Homo sapiens: one gene and its partner. The protein of the gene in region 2 purifies or fractionates together with the protein of the main gene of each other region. This does not show direct contact. Each region holds a gene or a part of one and is shown on either strand. Other genes may lie near its edges. The genes, in order: MAN2C1 and DAP.

Region 1 (3,801 bases), on a different chromosome or scaffold from region 2:
TGGGCCTCATGCCAGTGTACCTGGGAGTGGGAAGGAGGGTGGGAGTCAGGGAAGGAAGAGACACACCAAGGCCTGGGGCTGGCCCCTCCTTACCAAGCACACTTGGGGAAAACAGCCACCCCCTACCCCCCGACTACCTCGGTGTGGAAGCGGACATAGGGGCAGCCAACGTCCAGCACAACCTCCTGGCTAAGCCGACTGTTGGGGCTGATCTGTAGCAAGAACCAGGCGCTGCCCCGCAGGCCGCCCTCGGTGCCCACTGCCAGGGTCCCTGCCTGGCCCAGCACAGGCTTCCTATGGGACAGGGGTGGACATACTGATCCAGAGCAGCCTGTGTTCCCACCACCTCCACCATCCCCACATGCTGCCCAGCCTATACCGTGTCTCCAGGTGGTAGTCCATGACGTCCCATGCATCCCAGTACAAGGGGACATCATCAAATAGCACAAACTGGTTCCCCACGGCGCCCTCAGCAATGGCCTCCCTGGAAGGACATGGGATTGGTGCTGTACAACCAACTGACCTCGCTGTCTCCAGCTGCTCTTGGTGGGGTAGGGTGGAGTGAGTAGACCCAGTGGACAGGGGACTACTGCCCAGCCTGCCCTGCTCCATGTGTGGGTTCCAGCCCAGAGCCACTGGTGGGCTGCTGTGGGCAGTGTTGTGGCAAGGGGAGAGAGGAAATGGCCTGGGGTCTACTTGCCAGGCACTGGGAAAGGGCAATGAGGATTTGGCACCTGCCAGAGGCCACCAGGACCAAGGACGTCAGGCGACCAGTTGGGTCCAGCTTCACTCGGATGATGCCATTGTCCAGAGTCACGGAGCCATCAGTCTTTGTGGGAGGAGGCCTTGAGGCTGAGTCTGTAGGGGCTTCCCACACCAAAAGTCTTCCCACCCCAACCCCAGCCCCGCCTCACCACTTGCTCCAGACAGGGGAGCTCAGGACCCTCAGTTGTAAGAAAGTATCCCAGCACAGTTCCTGCCCCCCAGGGCATGCAGGACTCACCTCTTGCACTACGAACACAGGCTGCTGGGGCAGCAGGGGCTGCAGTGAGGTGGGGGGAGGAACAGGAGCATAGCCCATGCTGGGCACTGTCACCAGGGCTGGGGGTGAGGCCTGGGCATCAGTGCAGCCTTCCTGACCTTTCAGGAAGCTTGCGCAGGTGGGGATGGGTTGGTGGAAGATGTGCTACTACTCTCCAGTCAGGGGCACCCAGATCCCTCGGGGTATCCCAGGCCTGATCTGTCTGGCCTCCATCCTTCCTGCTGCAGTAGCAACCCTTCCCCTCAGCTCGTACCTAGGCTGTGGGCCCCGCCCGGTTTGGGCAGGGCCATCACTTCGATCCGCTTCCAGGGCAGTGTGTTGACGATGAGGAGGCCCTCAGGACCTGGCTCCCCAGCACACAGGGCTGCGGCTGCAGCGCTGAGCAGTGTATTGCCATGGGAACGGATGTCTGAGGAAAGACTGGCTGGTCATAGGTGGGCAACAGGTCTGGAATGTGCCCATGGGTATCCCACAGGGGACACTCTGGGCTCAGCCCTGGGGTTGGAGAGAGCAGGCAGGACTATTGTGAGCCTAACCTTCATAATGGCACATGGCTTCCTCTGCCACCATCTGGATGCAGCTTCCAGTCACCACATCATGGAACTGGTTCAGAAGAAGGAGCCTGCAGGGGCCAAGGGCAGGGATGGGAAGGCTGGGAGGGGCAGGCACAGAGGTAACTGCAGTGAGCAGTCAGGTGGATGGCAGGGACAGAACTGGGCTGACCTCCAGAGGTGCTGCAGCTGGGCTGCTGGGTATAGGAACTGGGCACTGCGGGCCAGGGCCAGGCTACTGAGCAGCTCCACGTCGTGCAGGATCCGCTCACATTCCCGGTTCCCCTTCTTGATCTGAGCCCAGGATGGGAAGATTAGTCTGGAGCCTGCTTAGCTGTCCCAGGACACCTTCCAAAGCCCTCCCTTGCTCAGAATCCCTGAGGACTCACCAAGGGCCTCGTGGAGAAGGCCTCTGGCGGGTGACCTGCCTTAAATGCCTTCCCTCTTCTCCCCGCAGCCCAAACCCTTCTTTCTTCAGGGGTTTCTGCCTCCTTCAAGCTTTCTTGACCAACCCAGGTCTTGAACTTCTCTCCTCCAAACTTCTCTTCCCCTAGATCTGGCCTGGGCTCTGTCCCCTGCTGCCTTCTCTGACCCTCTGCAGATCAAGGGCACACCCTCCCTGCACAGCCCTGCAACCTCCCCCTGACCTGGGCATGGGTGGTGTATGTGCCATTGTGCAGCTCCAAGAAGAGCTCCCCAACCCACGTGCACAGCTGCTCTGAGTCACTCTCCAGTGCTGAGAAGAGCTGTCTTGGAGAAGATAGCTGCACCCTGAGGAGACCACAAGCCTAGGTCTCCCAGCCTTGGAGACCACATGGCTCACCCTTCTTCCACACCAAAGCAAAGGATCCAGCTCCTACAGAGAGGAGCCACTCCAGAAAGCTCCCCGTTCACAGATGGCCAGCCCTGGACGCCCTAGGAGAGCCTCTCTCTCTGATGGGCTGGAGCCCTTACCAGCTTCAGCTTCTCCCCCACCCACCCCCAGGGTGGAAGTTTGGAGGAACCCGTGGTCTAGGATTGGGACAGGACAAGGTCCAGAGGAGGGGTTGGGCCCAATGTCTGAGGGAAGGCAGGGCTCATGGCAAGGGCCCAGGGTGGGGCTAAAGGAGAGCCAAGGCCTGGCCTGACCTGGGCAGCCCATCCGTATTGCTCAGGCGCTTCAGGCGGTCCAGCATGGTCTGGGTGGGGCCACCACCCCCATCCCCAAAGCCAAAGAGGAAGGCACTGTGGTTGGCCCGCCCCTTGTCCCGGTTGTTGGCCACGGTCTTCAGCACCTAGACAGGTGAGGGCAGGCCAGCATGGATCAGCCTGGAACAAGCCAGCCCTCTCCAGCCTGCCCCTACCCCACCACCCTAGGTGACCCCTCACCTCCTCCACGCTGCCCTGCATCCCATAGGAGTCGCCAGGTGGGAAGTGGACCAGTACACGGGAGCCATCCAGGCCCTCCCAGAAAAATGTATGGTGCTACCAGCAGGGAAACAGAAGCAGGGCAGAGAGGCCAGAGTCAGGGCTGAGGCAGAGCCAGGCCTTCCAGACTTGGTCCTGCCCCTGCCTGCTATGTGACCCTGGCAGAGGCAGAGTGAGGGTTTGGTGGTCTGTCTAGGACCCCACAATAAGGGGGAGAGGCAAATGGGCCAGGCGGGACTGAGGCCCACTCTGACCCTGACCCCCCGGGGGCCTGCTTACTGGGAAGGAGTTCACCAAATTCCAGCTCAATTTCTGGGTGAGAAAGCGCCTGATGCCACAGCCGTGCATGATCTGGGGGAGCTGTGCTGAGTAGCCAAAGGTGTCCGGCAGCCAGAACTGTGGAGAAAGAGGATCCTGGAGTGCAGGAACCAGAGCTCCAGGCGGACTCACCCCAGCCTCAGCCCCTCAGCACTCCAAGTCGAGCGCCAGCCCCACTCGCCCACAGCCTGGTGTAGCAGCTCTCAGCCTACCTCAGAGCACATCTTCCCAAACTCCTGCAGAAAGAAGTTCTGGCCCTGCAAAAACTGCCTCACCATGGCCTCTCCACTGGGCAGGTTCCCATCCTGGCAGTGAAGGAAGTGGGAGGCAGCCCAGGTCAGCGCTGGACGGGGAGCAGGCAGGCGCTCAGGCCAACCCAATCCCTGCAGGAGAAGCCAGGGCTGCTCAAACATGGGAGTTACAGCCAGAACTCAGGAAGGGCCCCTGTCCTTCAGGCCTGACTGTCCATCTGCCTGAGGGGGT
Region 2 (4,435 bases):
GCCGCCTTTTTTTTTTTTTTTTAAAAACTATCTACCCTTCAGAGCTGCCTACTCTCTGGCAATGCCAGACTAAACAAGAACACCAGAGCTTCCTGCCAGAAAAGGTTCACACATGGTCCTCTGTAACATCTAGGAAAGCGCATTTGAGGGGTGCTGTTGGCATCTGAGGGGTGCTGTTGGCATTTGAGGGGTGCTGTTGGCATTTGAGGGGTGCTGTTGGCATTTGAGGGATGCTGCTGGCATTTGAGGGGTGCTGCTATTGGGCCCCTCCTCTAACTATGGTCTTGGAGACAGATGACAGATGGTGACAGCCACCCGCAAGAGCTCACCCCGTAAGTCTAAAGGGGTTGCCCTGAAGTTACTAGAGGAGTTTACCTGGGGGATGAACAGTGCTGGTACCCTGATGCTGAAGCGGGACGTGAGACTCACTGCAGCAAACACAGCCCCACCCTGTGACTTGCCCCGAGGCCCAAACCTCGAATTTCATAAAGGAGAAAAACTGAGCCCCAGTGAAGCGTGAAGTGATGTCTTCAAACTTAGAACCCAAGCTCACTGCTACACTAGCACAAATAAGCTGCCTCTTCCCTCCTCAGGGGTAAATAAACTACTTACTCTGTAATTCACAAAGCCTAGCTGTTTACTCTGCAATTCAAAGAAAACCAGAGTCCAGCAAGGAATTTCTCCCAGGGAGTGAGTATGTACAGTTTATACCTCTGACCTTAAAAATCTCCATATGGGCACTTTGGAAGGCTGAGGTGGGTGGATCACCTGAAGTCAGGAGTTCAAGACCAGCCTGGCCAACATGGCAAAATCCGGTCTCTACTAAAAATACAAAAATCAGCCAGGTGTGGTGGCAGGCACCTGTAAACCCAGCTACTCGGGAGGCTGAGGCAGGAGAATCTCTTGAACCTAGAAGGCGGAGGTTGCAGTGAGCCAAGATCGTGCCACTGCACTCCCAGGTGACAGAGTGAGACTCTGTTTCAAAAAACAAAACAAAAAACTTCTTTATGGGTGTGTCTCTGTATGCAATTTAATTACTGTACTTTGGTTCTGTATCATTCCAACAGATACGCTTTAATGTAACCCATGTCCTGGGGAGTGGAGGGCCAGAGCAGGTGGCTGCTGCAGTTCCTGGAGGCAGCCCTGCCCGGGGTGGAAATCAAGGCGCTCCTCCCCACAGTGGACAGGGACCCGCTGTGGTGGAATGGAAGTCAGTTATCCTTAAAAGAAATCCCATCAAAAAAAAAACTCCCTTTGAAGTACTTTTTTTCTTAAAACCAATGCAACACAAATTCCCCCAAAACCATTTTCCATCACAGTGGAATGATTTTCTAAAACCCCATGCCTCTTAAGTTCTCTGGCATCAGTTAGACATTTTTCTTTCCCAGTGCCAGTTAGTTTTGTTGTAGAGAGCCTCCGTCACCACTGAAAAATATTGCCTACTCTGGACTGCAACATATTTAAAGAACGGCTCCTATTCATTGTGCTGGTGCAGAGAATTCCCGCCCTATAGCGGAGGACAGCAGAGAAGGATAATGGGAATCTTTTTTTTTTTTTTTTTTTTTTTTGAGATGGAGTCTCGCTCGCTTTGTCGCCAAGGCTGGAGTGCTTTGGCTCAATCTTGGCTCACTACAACTTCTGCCTCCCGGGTTCAAGCCATTCTCCTGCCTCGGCCTCCTGAATAGCTGGGATTACAGGCGCCCGCCACCATGCCCAGCTAATTTTTCTACTTTTAGTAGAGATGGGGTTTCACCATGTTATCCAGGCTAGTCTTGAACTCCTGACCTCAAGTGATCCACCCTCCTTGGCCTCCCAAACTGCTGGGGTTACAGGCATGAGCCACCGCGCCTGGCCAGGAATCTTTATTGTCAAGAAAATGGCGCAAATGTGCCACCAAAAGAAGCCATGTTTCTCAAAGACTTCTGTTCCTACAAGACTGAGTTTATGACACTAAGGCGTGCTATTAAGACCTAAAAGAACCTCACGCATCCATACATTGAAGTGACTTGGCTTCTGAGACCCAAGGCCTTTGATCTTCTCACCAGTGTCCCTCCATATGGGCCGACTGCCACTGGAAAGGAGAGTAGAAACGGAAACAGACCCGTCTGGACAGAATCCAAAGTGCAAACAGGAACTGTGCCCAGAGAGAGGAGGAGGTGGCAGAAGCATGAAGGCTGCTTAGATCCCTATGTTCTAAGAAAGACCGCTCTTTCCTGGCTTTAACTTCCTTGGCTCAGAAGTTTAGGATTTGCTCAAAATCAGAAAAAGCAACTTTGGGGGAAAAAAAAAATCTGGATGTGGAAGAAACTGGCGGTGAAAGTCATATTGAGTGATTAATGATAAAAATTATTTCCGCTCCTTGGTTCTTGAGTCGGTATGAAACGCTGGCAGCCTCTAATTAATCATCACCATGATATTAACACCACTGACTTTTCATTGCTTCTGCTACTTTCTTTCTAGACATCTGTATCCTCTAAGTAAATATTATCCGCCAAAACTTTGTTATAAGTTGTGCAACTGGGTTCGCCCAAGGCACCGGAGCCTGCGCGCAATCGCACAGGTACGCGGCCGCCCGCGGTCCTCAGGAAGAAACGCTTCGCCGCCGCCGGCAAGCGGGGCCGAAGCTCCGGCGGGCTCCTCCCGGGCCTGGGCGCCCGACCTCTCCGCGGCCCGCGCCCCTCGGGCGGGCATCAAGGCCCGGAACCCGTCTCAGCGCTCGCCGGGGCCCTCCCCGCGGAGCCCCCGCCCGGCGCCCCCGGGTTCGAGCCCGCCCCCGGCACCCGCGCGTGGAGAGAGAGGAAAAGAGTCAGTACCGGCGGGCGGGTGTCCAGCTTTAGTCTCTAGTTTCCCTTCGGGAGGCGAAGACATGACGCGGCGGGGCTTCCGCGGGGCCGAGGCGGCGGCGCGGTTCTCGGGCCGGGCGGGCGTGCGCGAGTGAGCTCAGGTGTGAGCGCCGGGGAGCGAGCGGGCGGGAGAACGACGCGCGCGCGTGGGGCGCCGGGGCCGCGCGAGCCGGGTGAGTGCCACTGCCGTTAAGGGGGCGCGGCCGCCGCGCGCCGACGTGGCGCAGCCGAGCCCACCGACGGCATGCGCACTGACGTCACCGCGGCCCGCCCGCCCTGCTGGGCCGCGAGCCAAGCATACGGTGCGTGCGCAGCCGGCCGCGCCACGTCGGATGCTGTGGCCGGGGGCGGGGGCGGGGGCGGGGGCGGGGGCGGAGGAGGGAGGGGAGAGAAGGGGTGAAGAAGTGAGAGGGAGAAGGAAGGAGAGGGAGGCGGGGTCCCCGACTGGCTGCGGGGACTGGAGTTGCGGAAAGTTAAGTAGGGCCCAGCTGAGGATGGCTCCTGCAGCGAACGCGCTCAGCCGGGCTCCTGGCTACGCGGCGACGGCTGGGTGACTGCGCCCCACAGTGCGGGCCAGGGCCGGGGCGTCCCGGCAGGGAGGCGACCGTCCCCTGAGGCCCTCAGCCCCTGCCGCGGCAGCGCCTAATGAAGCGCGGAAAGGAGAGCCCAGATGGCAGCGACGGGGGCCGAGAGAGCAGGAATTTGTTAAAAGACGATGCGAGGGGAGAGCCTGCTTTCCGAGTGAGGGCCAGCGCTGGGGAGCAGAGACGGTGGCTTCTGTCCCTGCCCTCCTCGTTATGAACCAAAAATAAAATTCTAAGCCCTGCAGCCAACGGATGGACCCTCCCCTCCGCCTGTGGCCTTCTAAGTTATCTTGAAAAACTAGTTCAGGCCTTGATGGGAAGCGGAAGTCAAACATGGCCTCACAAACATCCGCACGGAGACCCTAAGACTAATAGAGGACTCTGATAAGAAACATTTGCAGTGTATTCCCGGCTTCATCTGCATGATAACACCTTGGTCTCCACAACTCCTTCATGCAACCCGGACATTCCCTTCTACTGAGTCCAGGTCTTTAGATGATAACTCTCAACCAGTTGCCAATCAGAAAACCTTTAAATGTACCTATGACCCGGACGCCTCCACTTCACATTTTACCTCCTAAAGAGCCAACCTACATCTTACGTATTGATTGATGTCTCATGTCTCCCTCAAATGTATAAAACCAAGATGTTTCCTGGCCACCCTGGGCACATGTCATCAGAACCTCCTGAGGTTGTGTCAATGCACGTCCTTAACCTTGGCAAAATAAACTTCCTAAATTGAGACCACTCTCAGAAACTTTTGGTTTTCACCATCATCTTCCTGTTGCCGTGGCTGACCCCTGGCTCTCGTGCCTTGGATCGTGTTCTTCCCGCCTGCCCCAGTGTTTTGCAACTGCTGTTAACTTCCGCAATGCCTTGCTGGATTCGCATTCAGACAGGCCTAATCTCTTTAGCGAAGGAAACACCACCCCTCGCTTGGCTGTACTTTTCCCTTTGACAACAAAACTGTTCAGGGAGGCTGAGCTCCTCATCTCTTGTCACTCCCTC

Evidence for each region.
Region 1: the proteins of DAP (region 2) and MAN2C1 purify together in Homo sapiens (affinity purification with mass spectrometry; one large-scale study listed by BioGRID and IntAct). This does not show direct contact.

What each region holds. Positions count from the first base shown.
Region 1 is NC_000015.10:75,358,325-75,362,125, forward strand, and holds part of MAN2C1 (alpha-mannosidase 2C1), read right to left. Parts: intron 3,624-3,801; coding exon 3,531-3,623; intron 3,397-3,530; coding exon 3,280-3,396; intron 3,058-3,279; coding exon 2,962-3,057; intron 2,868-2,961; coding exon 2,722-2,867; intron 2,365-2,721; coding exon 2,241-2,364; intron 1,888-2,240; coding exon 1,766-1,887; intron 1,665-1,765; coding exon 1,579-1,664; intron 1,452-1,578; coding exon 1,296-1,451; intron 1,115-1,295; coding exon of another isoform or gene 1,102-1,114; coding exon 1,004-1,101; intron 868-1,003; coding exon of another isoform or gene 830-867; coding exon 735-829; intron 485-734; coding exon 380-484; intron 295-379; coding exon 138-294; intron 21-137; coding exon 1-20. UniProt on the Homo sapiens protein: Cleaves alpha 1,2-, alpha 1,3-, and alpha 1,6-linked mannose residues on cytoplasmic free oligosaccharides generated by N-glycoprotein degradation pathways.
Region 2 is NC_000005.10:10,758,201-10,762,635, forward strand, and holds the start of DAP (death-associated protein 1), read right to left. Parts: upstream 3,035-4,435; 5' UTR 2,869-3,034; coding exon 2,814-2,868; intron 1-2,813. UniProt on the Homo sapiens protein: Ribosome-binding protein involved in ribosome hibernation, a process during which ribosomes are stabilized in an inactive state and preserved from proteasomal degradation.